6 linked regions of the Homo sapiens genome follow. The protein of the gene in region 1 purifies or fractionates together with the protein of each later gene. This does not show direct contact. Each region holds a gene or a part of one and is shown in the gene's direction. Other genes may lie near its edges. The genes, in order: DHX33, ZCRB1, POTEI, NLRP3, KRR1 and E2F3.

Region 1 (4,447 bases):
GAAAGCACACTGGGAAAAAGGACTGGGATGTCTTTACTCAAAGTCCATAATTTGAGAGTTAACATTTATTATCCCTTGTAGTTTTGGGTTGCCTTTCTAAATATTTCAGGGTAGGAAGTGAAAATTTGTCAGTTTATTCTTAAACACAAATCTGCTGCTGGTTCAACGTGCACATTTTCAGTAATGCCTGGTCACCAAACTGTCAGCAACTAGAGGAAAATTATCTCCGACCTGGAGCAAAGGGGAGGTTTTTTGTTTTTAGACTAGCTCTCTCACGAATCACGGGAAGGGAGATATTTAACAGGGCGAGTTTCATGGAAACGAGCTTCAGAAGATACCCTTCACATGAGCTGAAGCTTACGGTGTATTCTCTGGAAATCACATTTCCTGTAAGAGCAAACAGCTACTTGGCATTCTCCGTGGTAAATTAGCAAATCATCTAAGAACTTTTAGGAGGGTAAGGAAGAACTAGTTATAATCCTACTTTTTTCTGCTGCAGTTCTGAATCTTCACTGAAGTGTCTGTGATGGGGTTGCACAGCCATGTAGAGAACTTGAGAGTCTGGCTGGAATGGTTGGGGGAAAGGAAAGATAAAAGACAATTTTAATTTCATTGAACTCCCTCCTTTCTCTGCTTGTATTACTGGAGGCGACCACATCCGTTGGAGGAGTCATTTTCTGAGTTAAATTCATGTATATCAGAATTGGTTTTCCTTTCTGTAACACAAGATGATCACAAAATTATGATTTGGGGACATCTGAATGACTAAGATGACTCAATTTCTTAATCTGTAAATTAGAGATAATCTAATAACCAGTATATACCACATAACTTATAAGTTGTTTAGAGGATTAGACAATGCACGTTTGCGCTTCTCATTGATTTTACAGAATTAAGTACTTTCCTTGAAGAGTGACTGTTATTTGGACAGAGAAGGGGAAAACGCGGGTTTACTGAAAAGAAGTAATGCTACTAGAACAAAACAATGGGCGGGGCGCGGTGGCTCACGCCTATAATCCCAGCACTTTGGGAGGCCGAGGCAGGCGGATCACCTGAGGTCGGGAGTTCAAGACCAGCCTGACCAACATGGAGAAACCCTGTCTCTACTAAAAATACAAAATTAGACGGGCCCCGGTGGCGCACGCCTGTAACCCCAGCTACTTGGGAGGCTGAGGCAGGAGAATCGCTTGAACCCAGGAGGCGGAGGTTGCAGTGTGAGCCGAGATCGCGCCATTGCACTCCAGCCTGGGCAACAAGAGCGAAACTCCATCTCAAAAAAAAAAAATAAAACAATGAGAAAAACCTCGTTAACCAAGACTACAGTCCCACGGAACCTTACATCCTGTGTTTCCCGGTTGTAGCTCCGGGCCTTTTCCTGGTTGTACCTCAGGCCCTGCTTTTCCCACCCCCAGGAAGTGAAAGCCTTCCCAAGCCCCCAAGGCATGCTGGGAGATGCAGTCCCTTTTTCTAAAGACTGGGGCGGCCGTGAGGTCATCGGTGGTCGCCGGGAGCCGCCAGCACGTGGCGGCGAGGAAGGGGCGGTGTGCTCCTGTTGTCTGCACCTGAGAGGGGGCAGGAGCTCTCGGCGCTTGCGCCTCCCGCCGCGGTGCCCTCCCGACATGCCGGAGGAGGCGGGCTTCCCGCCGGCCAAGAGATTCCGGCCAGGCTCTGGACCTCCGAGCCGCGCTGGGTCCTTCCCTCCCGGGAGGCAAGTGGTGATGCTGCTGACTGCGGGCAGCGGCGGCAGAGGAGGAGGAGGAGGCCGGAGGCAGCAGCCGCCCCTGGCCCAGCCCTCGGCCAGTCCCTACCCTGAAGCTGTGGAGCTGCAGCGCCGGAGTCTGCCCATCTTCCAAGCGCGGGGGCAACTGTTGGCCCAGCTCCGAAACCTGGACAACGCGGTCCTCATCGGTGAGTGGCCGCGCCGGCGGGCTCTTCCTTGCACTTCGTCCGTGGCTTAGCTAGAGCAGTTTTTCTTACATGCCTCTCAATCCCTTTCGTTCGTGGCTTCAACAAACCTGAATACCTTTTCTGGGCCAGACCTGGAGAGGGGCCTCGAAGAAGAGTCCGGCAGCCCTGCCCTGGAGGCGCTGGACAGCCCGGTGAGAGTGACCAACGTGTGTAGGCAAAGACTCACCTTCCGCGTAAAAGGGTAGAGAAACGTACCGGGGGCTTGCGGATCTTAGAAGAGTGGATCTGACCCGGTTTGTGAGGAGGCGGCTGGGGAGGTCGTGTGGGAGGGAGGGCATTCTAGGCAGGGGGGAAAGCCCGTTTGAGAGATGGGAACCTGAACACATTCCGGTCGAAAGGGAAGGTGTAGTTTCTGGTGCATGAAAAGAGGCAGAGTTGTGGGGCAGGGACTGATTTCATGGGGCTTATGATCCCCAACGTGTTAGAGGAGATACTGAAGGACGGAAAGGATGAGCAGCCAAAGAGAGGAAGGAGACCCATGAGTGCTGCTAGTCAAAGGAATAGAGAGTGAGCAGATGCAGCAGTCAAGTCCGGTTATACTGGACTTGGATGTGATGCCCACTGGATTTGGATGTGAGCTATTTGTAAGAGTTAAAGAAAAAGGAAAGAAACACGAAACGCGGCTGGCAGTTAAAGACAGCTTTTCTTTAGTTAAAACCTGAGAGGCGCTCCTGGCCGATTTCGGTCAGGAGCCCTTTCTCTTACAGACTAAGAGTATATATTGGTGTTAGGGTGAGGGGGCTTATCACAAGCTTGGAATGTTTATATGTGTGGAGAAGTTTTTGGCAGGGTTGGACTCTTTGGGAGCAGGGGATGTTATCTTGGGGCAGACATTTTTCCGGCCCGAGGGGGTTTATCTCCCGGCTGGCATATTCCCGGCTGGCATATTCCCGGCCAGAGTGGGGTTATCCCTTAACATGTCTCTGGTCGGGGAGGAGTTTGGAATGTTTCTGGCTGGAGATGTTATTTGTGGTTTATGGTCGTGCTGACCTTAGCCATTAGGCTGATACCTTTTGGATTTAGGCGGTTTTTTATTAAGGTGAACTTTTGAATGAGGGGCTTGTCCAAGATGGTGATGTTCCTGCTTTGTCAATCCAGACCCTATAGTTATAAAAAGGAGGAGGGACGGCATGTTCTTTCTGGCTACTTCCTGCAACGAGGGGATGGAGAGTTTCCTGGTCTCGGGTTGACTAGGAGCAATGCCGTCTGTAGATGTTTTTGGGTAGTTGTTTGTGAAATTGCCATGATCCTGTCAGTTAAAAATCTTTGAAAAAGATTAATTAGGCAGGGTAAGAACATTAGTTCCAGGCATATTATTAGGAGAGGGCCCAGGAATGGGATGACCCATGCTATGATTTTGTTTTCAAACCAAGAGTCCATTTGGTGGTTTTGGTACTCCCTTAGCTTTTTAGCCTTTTCTTTACGTTTTTTAGCAGCGCTTTTTACTAGGCCCGATTGGTTGATATAGAAAGAGGCGTGAGCCACCGCACCTGGCCCCCTCAAAACAATTATTTAACCTTTTAACGTAGGTAAAAATGTGCATTCTTATCCCTCCTGATAATCTTTTTACCGAAAGTGTACTTTACTTTCCTTACACACCTTGCACATAAAGTGTCTCTTCAATAGTTTTAAATACATGTTACACTGTTAACTTTTAGCAACCTTTACCTTTGTTGAAAACCTTGGTAAGTTCGGGATTTTAATTATGTGCTAGGTGTACAGCCTAGGACTTAGACAGAAGTGCAGTTAAGGTCTGGCTTATTTCAGCATTTAGCTCCATGTGTCCTAGGTTTTACCTAGCTGCAAAGCAGGCAAGTTCTACAGCTAAGAGTTATGGTGACATTTTATAAAGCATTCAGGAGGCCTAATCACTTTTAAATTGTAAAACATTTCTTGCATACATTTCCTCTCATAAAATTTTTCATGACTTTCACAGACTATCTCTGACACTATTGATCGTGGATCCATCCCATCGAGAGCTATTTCAACAAAGCTGTGTGGGTAACAGCTGATTTGTCATTGAGCTGAGGGCTGAAAGCAGGGGGAAGAGGCTTCTGTTTTGAGGAAAAAGGAGGGAAGCTGAGAGAAACTTTATGGATGCTGCTCGATTTAGGATGGGGTTATGTGTGGATGAATCCACCCATCCTCATAAGTTGAAAATATCCTAAGTTGGAAATGCATTTAATATGCCCAGCCTACTTTCAGTGTGCTCGGAACATGTACATTAGCCTATGGTTGGGTGATATTATCTAACATGAAACCTATTTTATAATAAAGTCTTGAATATTTCATGCAATTTATTGAATACCATACTGAAAGTGACAGTTGTGTGGGTACTCAAAAGTACAGTTTCTACTGTACGATTTTGACTTTTGCTCCATCCTGAAGTCAAACAGTTCTAAGACAGGGACCATCTGTATTCAGAGGTTGAGGGGAAGAACTCAGTAGGGAGGGAGGCAGAAGATAGAATCGAGCTAAC
Region 2 (3,853 bases), on another chromosome or scaffold:
AAAATAGATGAGATGAGGCATTGTTTATGAATAACACAATTCAGCAGAGACTAGCATAACGGAGGAGAAATTATATCCAGTTGAAGCTATTAGAAACTGACACATTGACCTGAACCCCGAAAGAATGAGGAAAATTTTAATGAGCAGTGATTCAGAGGTGGAAGAAGATAGAAGCTGTATGAACAAAGGCACAAATTTGGGGAAATACAGGCCATGCTACTGGAGCATTGAGTGGTTTCTTTTGGGTAGACTTCATAGTGTGTGCGTGGGAAGGAGCAGTGAAAGATGAAGGAGATGGGAGCCAAATCATCAAGGATACTGACAGTGGGACAAAGAATAGGCAACTTACAGAACCAAAGATTTTTGAACAAAGGAATGGTGTGATTTTATTTATTCCTTAAGTAGAAGACTACTTAAGGATATGAGAAAATTATAAGAGAAAAAATTACCATAAAGGAACCAATAAGAATAGACTGTTAAAACAGTAATGCCCCTATGGACAAGAAAAAAGCAGTGGAATTGGAAAAGAGGCAACAGATGAGAGATCATTAATTGAGGATGATGTAGAAAGCCAATACTTCTTTTGAAATACTACTTTAAAAAAAAAGACTGATAACTTTCACAAACATTACGAAAAATTCCAAAACATAAAGCAACTACCTTATTCAATATTTCTGTCAAATTGGTGATTTTTCCAACTCCAGCATTCCCTCTACATTCACCAGTCATCCCTTGGCATTCTGTTGTAAGCAAGAGCCTTCCCTCCCATCTCCTCCACTTATTTATTGGTCTTTTATCAGTAAGAATTATAAATTCCTACCTTCTCTGTGGCTTATAATTTATTACTGTAATGAATTATTTTGATGCTCAAATTGTCCTTGATTTGGCCAGTGGGAGCTCCTTCCAGCTGGCTGCTGTATTCTTGGCCCCATCATTCATTCATTCATTCCTCCCTCCGTCTCTCTCTCTCTCACTCGCTCACGCACTCTTGCACTCTCTTACCTTCTGGCATAAGATGTTCCAAGCTCCTCTTGTACCTGCCCTGCTGTAGCCTTGGAATCCGCTATTTCTCCAAAGAGCCCTGTTGAACATTGTTTTTAAACTATGTTAAATGACATACGGTGGGCAAGGGCCTCCATGACTAGGGATGTGGATGGGGCAGGAGAAAGAGCAGGCTCTGTGCTCTCATAACTCTCCTTGTCACTCAGGTACACCCTGGTGGGTGGTATGGCTAAAAACCACAGAACTGGAGATTCTTTTTCCCTAAAGATCGGGGTCTCATTATGTTGCCCAGGCTGTTCTCAAACTCCCATGCTCAAGCATCCTCCTGCCTCTGCCTCCCAAGTAGCTGGAACTACAGGTGCGCACCACCACAACCAGCTCTGGAGGGTTTTTTTCCTTATTTTTCTGAAGATTCTTTAAAAGAATATTAAGAATATACTTTGATTCTAACACTTAGAAAAATAAATAAATCATTTTACTTTTTGTGTAAAGTATACCTTTATTTTGTTTTGTTTTGCAAGGTGAGGGAGTTAGCATGGAAGAGGGATTGTGGTTACACTTTAAGATTTCATTGTCTCTGTAATTTCTTTACTTCACCCTTCAATCTCTGATTAACTCCTAATCATAGCTGTGCTCACTTCTGTTAAATCAGTATCACCCTTTCCCATTTCCATTCTTGATATCCCTTGACTTTGAAGAGATAGCTGATTTTTCAAATGTATTAATTTATCTTATAAATTTTTAGCCCTTTTTAAAATGAATTTTTCAAGTATTAGTATCTGTTTTATTTATTGCTGCCTCATTTTTAACTCTTTGTTTATGCTTTAAGGGTTACCATCATGAAAGATAAAGATACCAGGAAGAGTAAAGGGGTTGCATTTATTTTATTTTTGGATAAAGACTCTGCACAAAACTGTACCAGGGCAATAAACAACAAACAGGTAAGCTATTCATCTCCATCAAGGTTTTTAGCCCCAAAGCCTTTATGCTCATCCAGGCCAAAAATGTGGGGATATAGTGGATCATCAGGTCTAGCAGATATCAGTAGATTCTTAAGATATCTAACTTATAGAAAGAAAAGAGGTCAAACTACTGGGTTCTCAAAACATTGGTGGAATCTCAGGAATAAGAATACTACAGAATAGAATTTATCACACCTAAGTGACAATTGCTAAAAAATCCAAAATAAACTGGAATTGAAGATTTGAGAAAATTGATTAAATAATTAATTTTAGGTTTCAGTGAAATACATTCTACATTTACATTTTTCTCTTGTTTAGTTATTTGGTAGAGTGATAAAAGCAAGCATTGCTATTGACAATGGAAGAGCAGCTGAGTTCATCCGAAGGCGAAACTACTTTGATAAATCTAAGTGTTATGAATGTGGGGTAAGTAAACCTAAAACTTAATGGAACTTTCCATAGTTTAAGATACTTTTCACATCAGTCTTTTATTTTTGCTCACCAAAACTTCTGACTGGCTAAACCAGATTATGAAAATGCTTTATTTTTTAATATTTATTTTTTTGAGATAGGGTTTTCCTCTGTCACCCAGTGCAGTGATGCAGTCACAACTCACTGCAGCCTCTACCTCCCGGGCCCAACTGATCCTCCCACCACAGTGTCTGAGTAGCTGGGACCACAGGCATGCACCATCACACCCTGGTTAATTTTTAAATTTTTTTGTAGAGGCAGGGTCTTCCTATGTTGCCCAGGCCAATCTCAAACTCCTGGGCTCAAGCAGTCCTCCCACCTCAGCCTCCCAAAGTGCTAGAGTTACAGGTGTTAGCCATGGTGCCTGGCCTAGTTGTTAGGGTCTCTAAACTCATCAAAGTAAATTCAATTGAAATGCAATGTGTAAAGATAACCTGAGTTGGGTAATACAAAGTGGTATTTTCTCTAGTTCCTAAATCTTTGAAAATCACTAGTTTTAAAAGTGTTAGACTGATTACTTATGTCACTGTCTTGCAAGATTTTCGTAACTCATAAATTTTTGTTAATAGGATATTGCCTGTTTCTTTAACAGTTTTTAAGTCACAGTTCAATAGCAACATTATCATGTGACTTTATCCTCTATGGGATATTGTGTTTTGAAGTTTTTTATTTTTTCCTATTAGTATTGCTAGTGTTTTGTAACTGAACTATCCCCACATTTTCTTCTTTGGTTCTCTTCATGATCTGTCATTATCCATTTAAAGTTTTGGTGATGAAGAGAGAGAGACAGCCATAGAATAATTTTGTATAAGGTCTGTATTGGTACCAAGAGAATTTTAGTCTGGTTCTCACAGGTGTAAGTTTGTAAAATGACCATAAAAATACTTAAGAAACAGGCCGGGCACAGTGGCTCACGCCTGTAATCCTAGCATTTTGGGATGCTGAGGTGGACGGATCACTTGAGGTCTGGAGTTCAAAAGCAGACTGACCAACATAGTGAAACTGAGTTTCTACTAAAAATACAAAAAAAAAATTAGCCAGGCATGGTGGCAGGTGCCTGTAATCCCAGCTACTTGGAAGGCTGAGGCAGGAGACTCGCTTGAACCCAGGAGGTGGAGGTTGCAGTGAGCCGAGATTACTCCACTGCACTCCAGCCTGGGCAACAGAGGGAGACTCTGTCTCAAAAATAAAAATAAACATAAAATAAAATACTTAAAAAACAGAGTCCAGAGGTAGTAATGGGGAACTGGGGAGAGAATCACTGAAAGATACCGTCCTGGCTACAAAATCACATGGAAGATGCAAGGAAATGGCTTGAGGTCCTCTACCCCACTGTCACTCCCCATACCCCCGACAAAAAAGATAACTAAATAAACAGACTGATGGATGGATGAATAGAAAGAGTGAGCAAGCAGTTG
Region 3 (3,853 bases), on another chromosome or scaffold:
GTAGTAAGTGTAGGCATACATGATCCTATCATGTAAGTAGCATAAATCATGAGTGAAAAAGTTAATATTTAACTCAGAAAGAATTCTGTACTTTGAGTTTTCAAGAGATACAAAGCCTAGAGATATTCTTTGATTATTATGGAACAATCCTGAATGGTGCCATAAAATGCTAGGTAATGCCACTTTAGGAGCTTTGGACCAATCATTTTATCTTTCTTGGTTTTAGTCTGATTATCAATAGATAATGTGGCTAAAGAAGATAGCTTCTTATTCTGTGTATCTTCCAGCTAGAAAATTGTATGGCTATTCAATGTGAAATTTGGGGAGCATCTCATTTTCTGGAATTCCATGCTTGCACGTCAGCAGTTTCACTCTGCTTCTTGTGTTGTGGCAAACTTTGGCTCCCATTTTCAGTGAGCACCATCATGTTTTTGATATCCCAGCAACCAAATGAAAAAAGAATGCTCAAAGGCAGTGGGGTAGAAGAATATCTTAGCGCAGAAAAGGGCAAACTTCCTTTCTGTTCCTGAAGCCGCACAGTGTGTCATCCTCTAAATCTGACTGTTTAATGTAAAATCTAGGTGGTAAAGACAGAAGACACATTTTGCATCTTTGTCTTTTTATTTGCGTGTTCCCATGAGTCAAATGGGGTAAATACATACATAAGATTCTGAAGAGTGATTGAGAATAAAAGCATAAAATGAAGGAGGGCCCTTTTTGAATTTTGGAAAATTCTGTTTCATTCATTGAAACAGAAATGAAGCAAACTTTACAAAAATTTCTGTGATATATTAATGATATGATAATTACATCTTAAAGTTATATGGTAATATTTCTATATATATGATCAAATTTAAGTGTGAAATATTTTTAATGACTAAAATAATGACAAACTGAGTCAATTGATAGAATCAATTAAAAAGGTTCTTTTTATTCAATAAAGTGATAACTATCCTTAATATCCCACTCAAGGTTGAAGAAGAAATGAAGAAGCATGAAAGTAATAATGTGGGATTACTAGAAAACCTGAGTAATGGTGTCACTGCTGGCAATGGTGATGATGGATTAATTCCTCAAAGGAAGAGCAGAACACCTGAAAATCAGCAATTTCCTGACAACGAAAGTGAAGAGTATCACAGGTAAGCCTATGGCAACATTGAACAGGAGATAACTATGTGCTGTCAAACTAACCCTAGTTTGGGCTAATATTCATGATGAACAAATTTTATAGTTTTACTAGGATATTCAGCCTTGCCCGTTAATCAGAAAAATGAAAATCAGCGAACAATGAGTTACCATTTTTCCAGGCATTAATTTATTTGAAAAATAACCAGTATTGGCAAATGTGAGGGAAAAGGCATTTTCTTTTCTTTTTAGTGAACTTTTCTTTTAGTTTCAGGGGTACATGTGCAGGGTTATTATATAGGTAAAGTGTATCATGGAGATTTGGACTGCAGATTATTTCATCAGCCACATAATAAGCAAAACACCAAAAGTTAGTTTTTTGGTCGTCTCCCTCCCGTGACGCTCCACCTTCAAGTAGACCCTGGTGCCTGTTATTCTCCTCTTTGTGTCCATGAGTTCTCATTATTTAGTTCCCACTAATGAGTAAGAATATGTGGCATTTGATCTTCTGTTCCTGCATTAGTTTGCTTAGGATAATGGCCTCCAGCTCCATCTGTGTTGCTGCAAAAGAAATGGTTTCATTGTAAAAGACATTTCATACACTGCTGGTAAATACATTTTGAACATTAATTTAGTAGCATATTCACAAACACATGTATAACAATAAGGATATATAATATATGTAAAGGATATTTGTGTAGATGTTACATATATACTTATGTATAAGGACATTTATTACAGCATTATTATATCAAAAAGATGGATCCTTATCAATAGGAAATTATCATTATCAAAAGTAAATCATTACCAATAGGAAATAGCTCAATTTTCATACCCAGAAATTAATGTAGTATGCAACCATTTTTTACAAGTGAGGTTAGATCTAGAGTATACTGATTATTTCACAATTAAAGTGTATTTAAAGCATCAGTGATGACATCTTAAGAGTTCTTGTTAAAATTCTTGTAATATTTCCTGTGTTGCAAATGGAAGCTACATGCTATATTGATGCTGTACCTTGTTAGCAACAAGATTGCTAGTTATTAAATTTTTATGTCAGTGCCTGAGTGCTGAAATATTGGACCCTCAATCTGAATATTGCCAAGGGATTGTACATGGGGATCTGTATTTAATATAAACGTTTCAGTATATTGGGTAAAACTTTTATTAAAATGTATCAAAGGATCTTTCATCTGCTAAACCAGGAGTTGGCCAGCTTTTTCTGCAAAGAGCCAGTTAGTAAATATTTTAGGCTTTGTGGACTATATAAATTAATTTATTTTTGAGACAGGGTCTCACTCTGTTTCCCAGGCTGGAGTGCAGTTGTGTGATCATGGCTCACTGCAGTCTTGACTTTCTGAGCTCTAGTGATCCTCCCACCTCAGCCTCTCTACTAGTTGGGACCATAGGTGTGCAACATCACACCCAGCTAATTGACACTGTGGACTGTAAAGTGAATAAGCATGGCTGTGTTCCAAAATACTTGACTTACAAAAACAGGCAGTGGGCTGGATTTGGCCCAAGGTGCTAGTTTGCTGACCCTTGTGCTAAAAGGAAGGTGCTGCAAGTGAAGTGACTCTTATTTGTAAAAGTGCCCTGCGTGTGTGAAATTATCCTTCCTTTGAGAAAAGGATATATTTCAGTATTCACCTCACCATATTTTTCCACAGTGACTTCATATAATTTTAAAAATTTCATTTATAAAATAAGATTATTGTCTGCATTTCTCCCACTTTATTCCTGTTAATAGAACCCAGTATTTTGCTGTGATCAATTACTTTGTATATTTGATGAGTATCAGTTGTCCTAGAATTGGCTGATTTTATCAAGCAAGAAATACTCTCCTTGAAACTTTTAGTATTTCTTGGTCTTTATGCATAAGCATGAATAAAATGATAATCAGCTTATGTGTAATCTAGAAATGTTCAAGGCGACTTTTAGTTCTATAGTTTTAAGAATTTAACACCTCAGTCTGGCATTTTTAATGCCACATGTGTATAATTTTTATAACCTTTAAAATATATTATTGTTATATAAAATTTGAAAACTACACCTGTTATATAAAACTTGAAACTATTTGTCTATTACTTTTCCATGACTGTGGAAGAAAATTACAACATTCTCAGTCATGACTCCTAAGCATGATGTCCTTAAAAGAACTGTCCACACTCACGAACTCAAATTTTCTTTTCATTCACTCTTAATCTCACACCGGCGTCTTCAATTTCAGCAGTCCTCCAACATTGTTTTTCCTCAAGATTATCACAATTTTTTTTCTGTAAATTATGCATTTTTTCTTACACCTCATTTTATTTAATCTGTCAGCAATATTTGAGCCAGTGGAGGGCGTCTCCTCCCTAACGGCGTCTTCACTTGGCTTTCAGGACCTCACTCCCTCAAGCTTTTCCTCCTGCATTTCTAGTCCATTCATCATGGTCTGTTTTGCTTGCTCCTCCTCATCTTTCTCCTTTTGGACATTGTTGTTTCCCAGGGCTCAGTCCTCAATCTTCTTTCTCCTGACTTTTTCTTTTTCTTTTTTTGAGACGGAGTTTGACTCTGTCCCCCAGGCTGGAGTTCAGTGGTGTGATCTCAGCTCACTACAACTTCTGCCTCTTGGGTTTAAGTGATTCTCCTGCCTCAGCCTCCTGAGTAGCTGGCATTACAGGTGTGTGCCACCATGCCTGGCTAATTTTTGTATTTTTAGTAGAGACAGCATTTCCCCATGTTG
Region 4 (3,853 bases), on another chromosome or scaffold:
TTTTGAGACGGAGTTGCTCTTGTTGCCCAGGCTGGAGTGCAATGGTGAGATCTTGGCTCACTGCAACCTCCACCTCCCGGGTTCAAGCGATTTTCCTGCCTCAGCCTCCCAAGTAGCTGGGATTACAGGCATTGCACCTCCACGCCCGGCTAATTTTGTATTTTTAGTAGAGATGGGGTTTCTCCATGTTGGTCAGGTTGGTCTCAAACTCCCGACCTCAGGTGATCCACCCGCCTCGGCCTCGCAAAGTGCTGGAATTACAGGTGTGAGCCACCGCGCCCGGCCGTAATAATTTTTAAATGTACAGTTCAGTAGTGTTAGGTACACTCACATTGTGCAACCAGTCTCCAGAACTGTTTTCATCTTGCAAAACTGAAACTCCTCACCCATTGAATGATAACTCCTCATTGCCTCATTCTCCCAGCCCTGGTAACCACCATTCTATTTGCCATCTCTGTGAATCTTACTACTCTGGGTACCTCATATAAGTGGAAACATACAGCATTTTTTCCTTTATGAGTAGTTTATTTCACTCAGCATAATGTCCTCCGGGTTCAACTATGTTGTAGCATGTGTCGGAATTCCCTTCCTTTAAAAAAGACTGTATAAATACTCCATGGTACCATATACCAAATTTTGTTTAGTTATCTGTTGATGAACACCTGGATTACTTCTACCTTTTTGTTATTGTTAATGCTGTTATGAGTGTTGGTGCACAAATATCTCTTCAAGACCCTGCTTTGAATTCTCTGGGGTATATACTCAGAAGTGAAATTTCTGAATCATACGGTAATTCTGTTAAATATTTTGAAGAACTGCTCTACTGTTTTAGATACCATCTGCACCATTTCCCACCAACAGCACACAAGGGTTCCAATTTCTCCATATCCTAAGAACACGTTATTTTTATTTATTTTTTCTTTTTTATAGTAGCCATTCTAATGAGTGTGAGGTGGTATCTCACTGTAGTTTTGATTTCCGTTTCCCTAATGATAAGTGATGCTGAGCACATTTTCACTGCTTGTTGGCCATTTATAGAGCTTCTTCAGAGAAAGTTCTGTTCAAGTTCTTTTCTCATTTTCAGACCAGGTTTGGCTTTTGTTGTTGCCTTGTAGGAGTTCTTTATGTATTCTAGATATTAACCCCATATCAGATATATGATTTACAAATATTTTCTCCTATTCTGTGGGTTGTCTTTTCATTTGGTTAACTGTGTCCTTTGATGCACAGAAGTTAGTATGATTTTTTTTTTTTTAAATCATGGCCGGGCATGGTGGCTCATGCCTGTAATTCCAGCACTTTGTGAGGCTGAGGTGGGTGGATCACCTGAGGTCAGGAGTTCAACACCAGCCTGGCCAACATGGCAAAACCCCATCTCTACTAAAAATACAAAAAAAATTAGCCGGGTGTGGTGGTGGGCACCTGTAATCCCAGCTACTCAGGAGGCTGAGGTAGGAGAATTGCTTGAACATGGGGAGTGGAGGTTGCAGTGAGCTGAGATTGCACCACGGCACTCCAGCCTGGGCTAAAGAGCAAGACCCTGTTTCAAAAAAAAATTTTTTTTTCTTGTATTGTCTTGGTTTTTTCTCTTTTCCCCTCTCACGGTAGTGCTATGAGAAGGTGGAGGCAAACTGTTTGCTTTCTCTAACTCCTTTAAAAAGCTGATGCAGACTGTACCTACCCCCTGGGCACCTGCCATGATTAGTCCCTCTTTATCTGAATCTCAGCAGTGCCTAGACCTGCCTCCAATTCTCCATCCAGCTTCTCAGACCACATGTTTTGTCCAGTATCTGCTGTGTGGTCAGCAGGCTTGGGCCTCTGCTTCCTATGGCCCAGAGGGCAGCCTCTCTCCTTGAAGAACCGTGGAGTTTGGGGCAGAAGCCTTTCCTTTCACCACCACTTTGGGAATTGGAATGTAAAAGAAATTCTCTTAATCCCCATGTACACATTGGGGATAAGGTTCTTTCTTTTGTCTTGTGTTCTAGGCAAAGGTAGGGCTCAGAGAAGGGCAGGGTATTGCAGGATGATGATGTAGAGCTGGTGGTGATGGGAAGGAGGAGTACAAATGAGTCAGTGGATAGGGAGACACATGTTAAGGCAGGGCAGCAGTGTGGGTGTAATGACACTGGGGAAACAGACAGCAGTGTGCAGCCGGGGGAGGTCAGAAACCAGTTGCTGCAATGGCTCTCACCTGTAGTCCCAGCTACTCAGGAGGCTAAGGCAGGAGGATCGCTTGAGCCCAGGAGCTCAAAACCAGCCTGAGCAACATAGGGAGACCTCATCTCTAAGTAAATAAAGCAATTATCATTGTGTCAGTACTTATATACTCACATACCCAAATGAAAGTGTCATAATCACAACTGTAGAAGTACTTTGCTAAGCAGTTTTTATGGATTTTATGGCACATTCAAGAAACCCATGAAACAGCTTCTGGTATTATCCCTCCTGCAAGTGAATGAGGTGAGCCTGGAAGAGATCCTAACTGGCCCATGGTTTATTTCTAGCCATAACCAGAGCTGGGGTAAAAAGCAGGGCATGTCTCTGATCAAAGCCTGGCTCTTAACCACTACACCGTCTTTGCTTCCATATCTGGATTTTGAGGCAGAAAAGTTATAACTAGGGTTAGAAGTTTGTTTGTTTGTTTCCTGGGGTGGGGTTAGGTTTTAGGTAATAGACTTTGGCTAATTTACTGTCATGGCTCCTACCTGAGTCCCAGTTACTCAGGTGGCTGAAGTGGGTGCATCACTTGAGCTCAGGAGTTCCAGGCTGGAGTGAGCTATGACCATGCCACTGCCCTCCAGCTTTGGAAACAAAGCAAGACTCTGTCTCTTAAAAAAAAAGAATAAGATTTTGGTTTTGGCTTAGATTTTTTGGATTTTATTTTGTGATATGGTTACCAAGTAGACAGCTGTCAGAGGTCTTTTATGGGCTGGGCGCAGTGGCTTATGCCTGTAATCCCAGCACTTCAGGAGGCCAAGATGGGAGGATTGCTTGAGCCCAGGAGTTTGAGACCAGCCTGGGCAACATAGTGAGAACCTGTCTCTACAAAAAATGCAAACATTAGTTAGGTGTGGTGGCACGTGTCAATAGTCCCAGCTGTTCTGGAGGCTGAGGTGGGAGGATCACTTGAGCCCAGGAGGTTGAGGCTGCAGGGAGCCATGATTGTGTCATTGCACTCCAGCCTGGGCAATAGAGTGAGGCCCTGTCTCAAAAAAAAAAAAAAAATCATTTATGTTACTTGTAGATTCCTGCCCACCTGAAGTTATCTGTCTTATATATTTCCCCTAGTGACTAACTCTTGTTTTACCTAACCTGAATTTCTCCTATAGAATGCCTTCTTAAGATATGCTATCTAGTGACTGTTTGGATTTGTGATTCTCAACACAGATGCATGTTGGAATCACCTGGGAGCTTTTAGTATGTGATGGTTCCTGGGCCTCACCTCAGAGGGACTGAAAAAGAACCTCTGGGCGTGCAGTCCTGAAGTCCATATTTTTAAAGCTTCCTGGGTGATTCTAAAGTCAGCCAGGATTCCCAACCACTAGATTAGGCACGAAATAGACTGGTCGTTCTCACTCTTGAAGAACCAGACATCTAGACTTGACAATAGAAGACGTGTGTAAAATGGATTGCAGGGAACTGCGGTCAGGGAAGGGTGACCTTTCTTAGCCCACAGCCGTGTTGGGGATATAGGAGAGCTTGGAGATGCCCTCACAATCAGGCTGCCAGGGGCAGGCAAAAGCAAACGAGGGTAAAAGAAACTTAGCCTGCTTCGCATGTTTGCTGATTGATTTCCAGGCCTGAGGAAGAGATTCTGAGACTGGGGACAGTGGGAACACATGCTTGGCAGGTG
Region 5 (3,853 bases), on another chromosome or scaffold:
CCAATTGTGAAACCTAAGGAAGGTAATGCTTTCTATGATGTAAAAGTCTTTATTAATTAGGAAAAGTAAACCCATAATAAATTTGTCTGAATCTTTTTAAGAAACAGTTGTATCTTTTCATCAGTTCTCTTAGCATTTCATTAATTACTAATCCTAAGGACAAGGGATGGCTGAGATAATTTATAATTTAGAGGCAGCTAATGCCTATTTCAGTGCAAACTGGATTGACAGTCCTCTCCTGACCTCTGGTCTGTGCTTGGAAAAGACTCTTTGTTGTGAAAGATACAAACCCAGGGCAGCCAGTGCATCTTCTGTAGAAATGCAAGAAGATCCCTGAGCTCTGCTGTCATGCCTCTCAAAGAGGAATTATCAGAAGTTGTACTTTTTCTTCTCTTTATGTGATCTTGGCTTAGAGTTTGGCTTCTATATCGGTAACATGGATTTCTCATCACCTTAGACTAAAGGATGCTGACAGGTCTTATTCAGGAGCTATTAGTGCGAAAGTGATTGTGGTTTTTAAATGGCAGAAATCACTTTCGCACTAACCTAGTATTTAAAAGACACTAAGAGAAAACATTGTCATGCCATTTCTTCTGATGCATCCTCTTCTGCATTTTTTTCCCCTGTGGTAACACTTATCCTCTTCCTAAAGTAACCCTCCAAAGTGAACAGTGACACACTGAAGGGAGAGGGCTCACCAGCAATATTGTACATAGACTGGGTCAGAAACAGATATAATACATTATTATTTTAATATATTGCTTGTTAATAGCTTTAAAAATACTACATTCTATGGTAGATTATTGGTTATATAAAAGGTAGAAATGTCATAAGTATTATAATTTCCAGTCTGTAAAACCTGTCAGTTGAGTGCTTTGAAGGTACTCAATATACTCAATAGCTAGTTACCCTAATTTAGTTTCTCCACACGGTGGAGGCTTTAACACTCTGTGCTTCTCAGGTTGCTGGGTAGTTTGATGTTTTATCTTATGATTCTTTTATGCTGTGATCCTGTACTTTGAATGGTAAGAAAAAGTTGCATTCTTTTTCACTGCTTCCTTTCTCTATTTTGTTCACACTTTTGGCATTGATTAGATAGTTGGCTTCTATTAGGGGGACTTCCACACACTCTCAAATTATTGTCTTTATTACCAAAATGTTGTTAAATATACCAAAATCTTGTTAAAATACTATTAATTAGTCATTCATTGAATTAATATTCAATGAATTAATCTAACATTAAATGAATTAATTCATTGAATATTCAATTAATATTGAATTAATATTTGGAAAACTTTAAATTTTCGTTTTGATATTAGAGGAAGTAGATTTTGACCTCTAGCTTAGGGTTAGCTGATTAAACTTATTGAGAAGGGATACATGTAATTTTAAATTATTTTAATGTGCAAGATGGAAAATAATGACTCAGAAGTTCCAAAATATGGAAAAGAATGTAGGTAAAATAATTTAGTCTGAAGTAGGATTTAAGGAAATAGTCTTAATATAGTTGAATCCAGTAATTGGTTCAATTATGCCATTTATGCCATTTTTATGTATACTTGTACTAATATATAAAGTATTTTATGATTTGTTTTATCTTAATCTGAAGAAATTTCTAACTGCTTTAGGCAAGTGTTTTTATATTTTATACTGTGATCACCTTTCAATTATTCAATTATAAGAATACTCTGAAGTTAACTGCCTTAAACATATATTCTTTGTTAAACATATATTCTTTGTTTTACTTGGTAAAATCTAAAGTATTACATGTGTTGTGCTTTTAATTTGTCTAGCTTCTACTGAAACTAAAATTGATGTGGCCAGCATCAAGGAAAAGGTTAAGAAAGCAAAGAATAAGAAACTGGGAGCTCTTACAGCTGAAGAAATTGCACTTAAGATGGAGGCAGATGAAAAGAAAAAGAAGAAAAAAAAGTAACATACCCAAAACTCCTTGACTAGAACTATCTCCTTTTGTAAAGGATTTTGAGATATCAGGCATTAGTTGCCTTATTTGTGAGAAATTTTCTGAGGGCTTTTTTTTTTTTTGGTGGTGGTGGTTGTTCATAGAAGAGTGTTCTTTATAAATTATATTATTATTGTATTTTTTGAAAAATTTATACGAGAAAGTGGTATATAAGTCTTTGTATACATTACGACCATTGTGATTATCCATTAAATCCAGTGTCTGATGCTATTGGTTAGTAATGATGTCCCAGCATTTGATGTTCCCTCTCTAATGATAACAAGTAAATATTTAGGTTTATCCCTTTTGAAAGTTTGGTTTTACTTTTAACAGTCCATGAACAGAAAATTAAGGCCTCTAAAATCAGATCCCCTAGTTACTCCTCTGTTCTGAATCTGGGGAAGTAGTAAACCAAAAAGACAGGGAAAACCAGATATTTAGAGTCGAAGCAGCATGCAAAAAATAATAATGTTTTTAACTAATGAAGGCTACTGGAGTTACTAAGAATCACCTAAAAATGTGCTACTGTACCTTGCTCATTTTGCAGATTTAGAAGCTGAAACATGGGTTAGGTTACTTACTAAAAGTCCACCTGTGGCAACCTGCAAATAATGCTTATTTATACTAAAGATGAGTTTATCTGATAGAGTTAGGAAATTTCTTCTTTTGAGTAAGAGTATTGCTATAACATATATTTTTTTCTGAAATGTTTTAAAATAGAAGTACACCTAATTGTTATTGGTTAAAAAAAAAGCCATATGTGAATGAGGTTGGTTTTTGGGTTTTTTCTTTCCTGAATTGTATTAGTCCAAAAGAACTAAATTAGGGTACTTGTGCTGTACCAAAATGGTAATTATAACAGACAGTATTAGAATTACTGAATTAACAATGAGAAAGAGAGAAGTGTATCTGTTACGTGGATATATGGGCCAGCCTGGATATACAACAGAGTAGTAACCTGTGAAACAAACATAGAATATCCTCTTAGACATTGTTCCTCATAATGCACTGACAGAATTCACATAGCTCTTAATGAAACAATTTAAGATTGATGTACGTACGTTTGACTTGGTCTCGCTGTCGGTTAACTGTAAAGTTAGGGGGAAGAAAGAAAAAAAATTAAAAGGGTAGACACAGTTGAGAGTTTTATTTTAAAAAGCTAAGTCTTATAATTATGACCATTAACTTGCTTTGGCTTTATTGCAGTGACTTTCCAAGTTTAATTATTCAAAACTTTTTGAACTGACTGAATTAACTTGGTATTTTTAAGTTGACTTTTTACATAAACTTTATAAACCTTTTATAAAAAGGAAACTATACCATTACTATAAATGGAAAATCATTTTACACATCATACCTAGCAGGTAATAAAATTTAAAAAATAAAAATTAAATATTAGAATGTGAGAAATTTATTAAAATATAGTTCTAAAAATAAGTTTCTTCCTGAGAAGAATGATACTGTTTATGATGAATCCATAGTGAAAAGACAGTGACCTCTCTTTCATCCAGTCTAGTATATCACTAAATCATCATTACGATGTTTGGCTATCAAGTCATTAATTACTGTCCTCCTTTCACTGAGCTTTATTCAAATTTTGACAATCAGAGCACTGGGAAGAAATAAATTCCACAACTGCCTTTAGCCTTCTGGATACTTTCTTTTATAAAATAGAAACCTTTTCCACACCAGTTCTGCAGCAGTCGCTATTAGATGCTCGTGGTAGAACCCATCAATCATCTGGTCCTCTGGGTACTGGTGAGCATCCCTGGTCTTCATACCTGTGAGTGGGCTTTGTGGTGAATTACTGTAAATATGCTACCCTCACTTTTCTTGGCAGTTATGTCGATGAAATCAAGAGTGTGATGTTCTAGTTATTTTTTTTTATAT
Region 6 (3,853 bases), on another chromosome or scaffold:
CCCTCCCTGTTCACTCAACAGGGGAGGAAAAATAACAGGATAACCCAACGGGAACCTCCCTTCTGAAAAGGGGAAATGACATAAAGTGCTCACCTCCTGCTTCTTGTCATGTCCTCCACAGGGACAGCAGTTTGTAGAGCCTATAAGTCCACCCCAAGTTCCACCTCCTGGGAGGAATTCTGGGGCTGCCCCTTCTTCACACCTCACTTATTTCTGGCGTGGCTTTTGGACCTAGTGATTGATTTCCTTAGAGGTTCAACATCATGGACCTTCACTTTCTAGACTTAGTGATTCTTTCGCAATAAAAGTGCCTTGCAATTTTAGTAGCTTGTCCATCTAGCATTCAAATTTGGTCAATTTATGGTTTGGTGCTTAGTAACGAGAGTTACACATGAAGACTAGTCCCGGTCTTTCGAAGTTAAGTCTCAGTCACTTAGCAGCAGACATGGAAATTTCCCTAACCTACAGTTTAATGGTTCCATAGGCCTTTGCCTCATGGCAGTCTGAAACAGCAGCCTGGGAGGGAGAGATAAAACTAGTATGCCCCCAGCCTGCTGACCAGTGGGTGGTTCTTTACTGCTGAGGCACGGCCCTAGGTCCCTAGGAGTTCTGGGTCCCAGACTCTTTTCCAAGTTTGCCTTCTTTCTGTTCACTTTATTTTCATTTTTTGAGACAAGAGTCTTTCTCTGTCATCCAGGCTGGATTGCGGAGGCACCAACCTCCACCTCCCAGGTTCAAGCAATTCTCATGCCCCAGCCTCCCAAGTAACTGGAACTACAGGTGCATGCTACCATGCTGGGCTACTTTTTGTATTTTTAGTAGAGTTAGGGTTTCACCAGGCTGGTCTCAAACTCCTGACCTCAGGTGATCTGCCTACCTCGGCCTCTCAAAGTGCTGGGATTACAGGCGTGAGCCATTGTGCCCAGCCCATTTGTTGACTTTAATTTGGGCAGAGAATACAGCTCTATGTCTCCTTAGATTGCTTTCTGTAGAGAAGGCCTCCATAGCAAAGCTGTTTTCTTTGAGGCGGGCCAGCCTCAGATGAAGTTTCTCTCTATCTGTAGTATCTTCCTGGCGGTCACAAGAAGTGACCAACACACTCTGCCACTCTCTAACAAGGCCTGCCAACTCCCTGTCACACCATAGCCATCTTGACTCAGCCAGTTCCATAAGCTGTCACTGGCAACAGCACAATTCTAGGTTCCCGACTCAAAACACTTGAAGCAGCTGGGCACGGTGGCTCACGCCTGTAATCCCAGCACTTGAGGAGGCCGAGGAAGGCGGATCACGAGGTCAGGAGATCAAGAAGATCCTGGCTAACATGGTGAAACCCCGTCTCTACTAAAACTACAAAAAATTAGCCGGGCGTGGTGGCGGACGCCTGTAGTCCCAGCTACTCGAGAGGCTGAGGCAGGAGAATGGCATGAACCCGGGAGGCGGAGCTTGCAATAAGTTGAAATTGCACCACTGCACTCCAGCCTGGGTGACAGAGCGAGACTCCGGGTCTCAAAAAAAAAAAATGCTTTAAGCAAAAAGGAGAGTTTATTGGCTAATGTAACTGGAAAGTCTGGGAAAGACCAACAGTTGCCCCCAGGGCATGACCAGAGCCAGAGTTTTGAGTGGTGGTCTCAGACCCCTCTCTCTCCTTCTCTCCACTCTGCTTTCCCCTGGGAAGGCCCCATTCTCAGGCAGCTTTAGGCTCCTCACTTACCAACCTTACTGGAAAGACATACCTGCTTCTTGCCAGATAGTTCCAGAAACATTCCTGGGGTTAGCCTTTGCTCCTCCAGCCTTGGTCATAAGCCATTCAACCTGTTCGCGGTGGGGGCGGGGAGGGCAGGATGGGCCACAATGATTAGCCAGGCCTGGATCACCTGTGTGCACAGATGCGCTTAGACCAGGAAAGGGATGGCTCCCCAAGGAACAAACAGGGAGCTTCTGCCTGATAAAGAGTGAATGTTTGCTGGACCAACCACAGCAGGCCCACACAAGGACTTGACAGAATGGCTGGGAGGGGAAGATGAAGTCCAGCAAGCAGATTGTCCTTCCGGAGCCATTAGAATGATGTTTAACTTAGCACTGCAGTAGAAAGATAAGGTGTGCCACTGAGGCAAGCCACATCGTAAAATATATATATAAAGAAACAGATGAAATAATTTTAATGCTACATCTGACCCATTAACAACATTGGGGTTAGAGGTGCCCTGACACAGTCAAAAATTTAGATAGATCTTTTGACTCCCCTAAACTTAACTAATAGCCTGTTGTTTGGGGTTTTCATTATTATTTTAGTGATGGGGGGTCTTGCTACGTTGATCAGGCTGGTCTTGAACTCTTGGCCTCAAGTCATCCTCCTGAGTAGCTGGGATTACAGGTGTGATCCATGCACCCAGCCCTAATAGCCTACTGTTGACTAGAAGCCTTACCAATAACATAAACAGTCATTAACACATTTCATATGGTATATGTATTATATACTGTATTCTTACAATGAAGTTAGAGAGGAAATGTTATCAATAAAAGAAAGTTTGGAATGAATGAAAGTGGAATCCACAGGATAGATTTCCCTCATCAGCCAAGCAGGACTAGAGGTGAGGGTGTGTGAAATAGGCCGTGCTGGGCAGAGCTGGGCTTTGCCTGAGTGTCTTACTCTTTTCCCTTATGATCTAAAGCCAGGTTTCTCCAACTTTAAGGTGTATCAGAATCACCTGGAAGGCCTGTTAGATTGCTCAGCCCCATTCCCAGAGTTTCTGATCCAATGCATCTTAGGTATGCTCTGGAATTTGCGTTTCCTAGCAGCTGAACTTGGTCCAGGGTTCAAAGTGTAGAAGGCATATGGGCATATAAAGCAGCTGGATGAAAAAAAAATCATAAGGAAGAGAAAATAGATTTACTATTCATTACTGGAAGTGGATCATCATAAAATTCATCCTCGTTATCTTCACATTGAGGAAGGTGTGGTGAAAGAAAAGAGGAGGGGTTGGTCTTACTGTCTCAGGGATGACAGAGGAAGAAGAAAACCCACATATAGGTGGACACACTCATGGCCGGGTGCAGTGGCTCACGGCTGTAATCCCAGCACTTTGGGAGGATGAGGCAGGAGGATCACTTGAGCCCAAGAGTTCAACACCAGCCTGGGCAACATACAGAGGCCCCATCTCTACCCAAAAAAAAAAAAATTTAAATTAGCCAGACATCATGGTGTGCACCTGTGGTCCCATCTACTCAGGAGGCTGAGATGGGAGGATTCCTTGAGCCTGGGAGGACAAGGTTGCAGTGAGCTGAGATCACACCACTGCACTCCAGCCTGGGCGGCAGAGCAAGACCCTGTCTCTAAAAAAATAAAATCAGTGGAAACGGACAGTCCAAACCCATGTTGTTCAAGGGTCAGTTGTATTTTATTTATTTCATTTAACATGTGATCACTACTAAAATTGTTGAGATATTTTACCCTGTTTTGTACTAAGTCTTCGAAATTCAGTGTGTATTTTACAATTATAGCACATGTCAGTTTGGATGAGCTAGTAACCAGTGGCTATCGTAGTAGACGGTGCAGGGTTAGCTGGTAACTTTCCATAGAGGGGCTGAATATCTAGCTTCCGCTGATAAGTTATTACTTACGTTTTCACATCACGGGGAGTTGTTTTGAAATTGCAACTCTCGGCTGGGTACAGTGGCTCACGCCTGTAATCCCATCACTTTGGGAGGCCAAGGTGGGCAGATCACCAAAGATCAGGACTTCGAGACCAGCCTGGCCAACATGGCGAAACCCCGTCTCTACTAAAAATACAAAAATTAGCTGGGAGTGGTGGCGTGCACCTGCAGTCCCAGCTACTTGGGGAGGGCTGAGGCA

Evidence for each region.
Region 2: the proteins of DHX33 (region 1) and ZCRB1 purify together in Homo sapiens (co-immunoprecipitation; one large-scale study listed by IntAct). This does not show direct contact.
Region 3: the proteins of DHX33 (region 1) and POTEI purify together in Homo sapiens (affinity purification with mass spectrometry; one large-scale study listed by BioGRID and IntAct). This does not show direct contact.
Region 4: the proteins of DHX33 (region 1) and NLRP3 purify together in Homo sapiens (affinity purification with western blotting, with the first as the bait; one study listed by BioGRID). This does not show direct contact.
Region 5: the proteins of DHX33 (region 1) and KRR1 purify together in Homo sapiens (co-immunoprecipitation; one large-scale study listed by IntAct). This does not show direct contact.
Region 6: the proteins of DHX33 (region 1) and E2F3 purify together in Homo sapiens (pull-down; one large-scale study listed by IntAct). This does not show direct contact.

Annotation. Positions count from the first base shown.
Region 1 is NC_000017.11:5,466,032-5,470,478, reverse strand, and holds the start of DHX33 (ATP-dependent RNA helicase DHX33), read left to right. Parts: upstream 1-1,496; 5' UTR 1,497-1,619; coding exon 1,620-1,908; intron 1,909-4,447. UniProt on the Homo sapiens protein: Implicated in nucleolar organization, ribosome biogenesis, protein synthesis and cytoplasmic dsRNA sensing. Stimulates RNA polymerase I transcription of the 47S precursor rRNA.
Region 2 is NC_000012.12:42,315,877-42,319,729, reverse strand, and holds part of ZCRB1 (zinc finger CCHC-type and RNA-binding motif-containing protein 1), read left to right. Parts: intron 1-1,831; coding exon 1,832-1,943; intron 1,944-2,282; coding exon 2,283-2,390; intron 2,391-3,853.
Region 3 is NC_000002.12:130,485,318-130,489,170, reverse strand, and holds part of POTEI (POTE ankyrin domain family member I), read left to right. Parts: intron 1-972; coding exon 973-1,139; intron 1,140-3,853.
Region 4 is NC_000001.11:247,419,170-247,423,022, forward strand, and holds part of NLRP3 (NACHT, LRR and PYD domains-containing protein 3), read left to right. Parts: intron 1-3,853. UniProt on the Homo sapiens protein: Sensor component of the NLRP3 inflammasome, which mediates inflammasome activation in response to defects in membrane integrity, leading to secretion of inflammatory cytokines IL1B and IL18 and pyroptosis.
Region 5 is NC_000012.12:75,497,892-75,501,744, reverse strand, and holds part of KRR1 (KRR1 small subunit processome component homolog), read left to right. Parts: coding exon 1-22; exon of another isoform or gene 23-1,793; coding exon 1,794-1,936; 3' UTR 1,937-2,766; coding exon of another isoform or gene 2,767-2,921; 3' UTR 2,922-3,024; coding exon of another isoform or gene 3,025-3,051; 3' UTR 3,052-3,853. Other genes in the region: GLIPR1 (glioma pathogenesis-related protein 1 precursor), read right to left, coding at 2,767-2,921, 3,025-3,051. UniProt on the Homo sapiens protein: Part of the small subunit (SSU) processome, first precursor of the small eukaryotic ribosomal subunit.
Region 6 is NC_000006.12:20,474,865-20,478,717, forward strand, and holds part of E2F3 (transcription factor E2F3), read left to right. Parts: intron 1-3,853.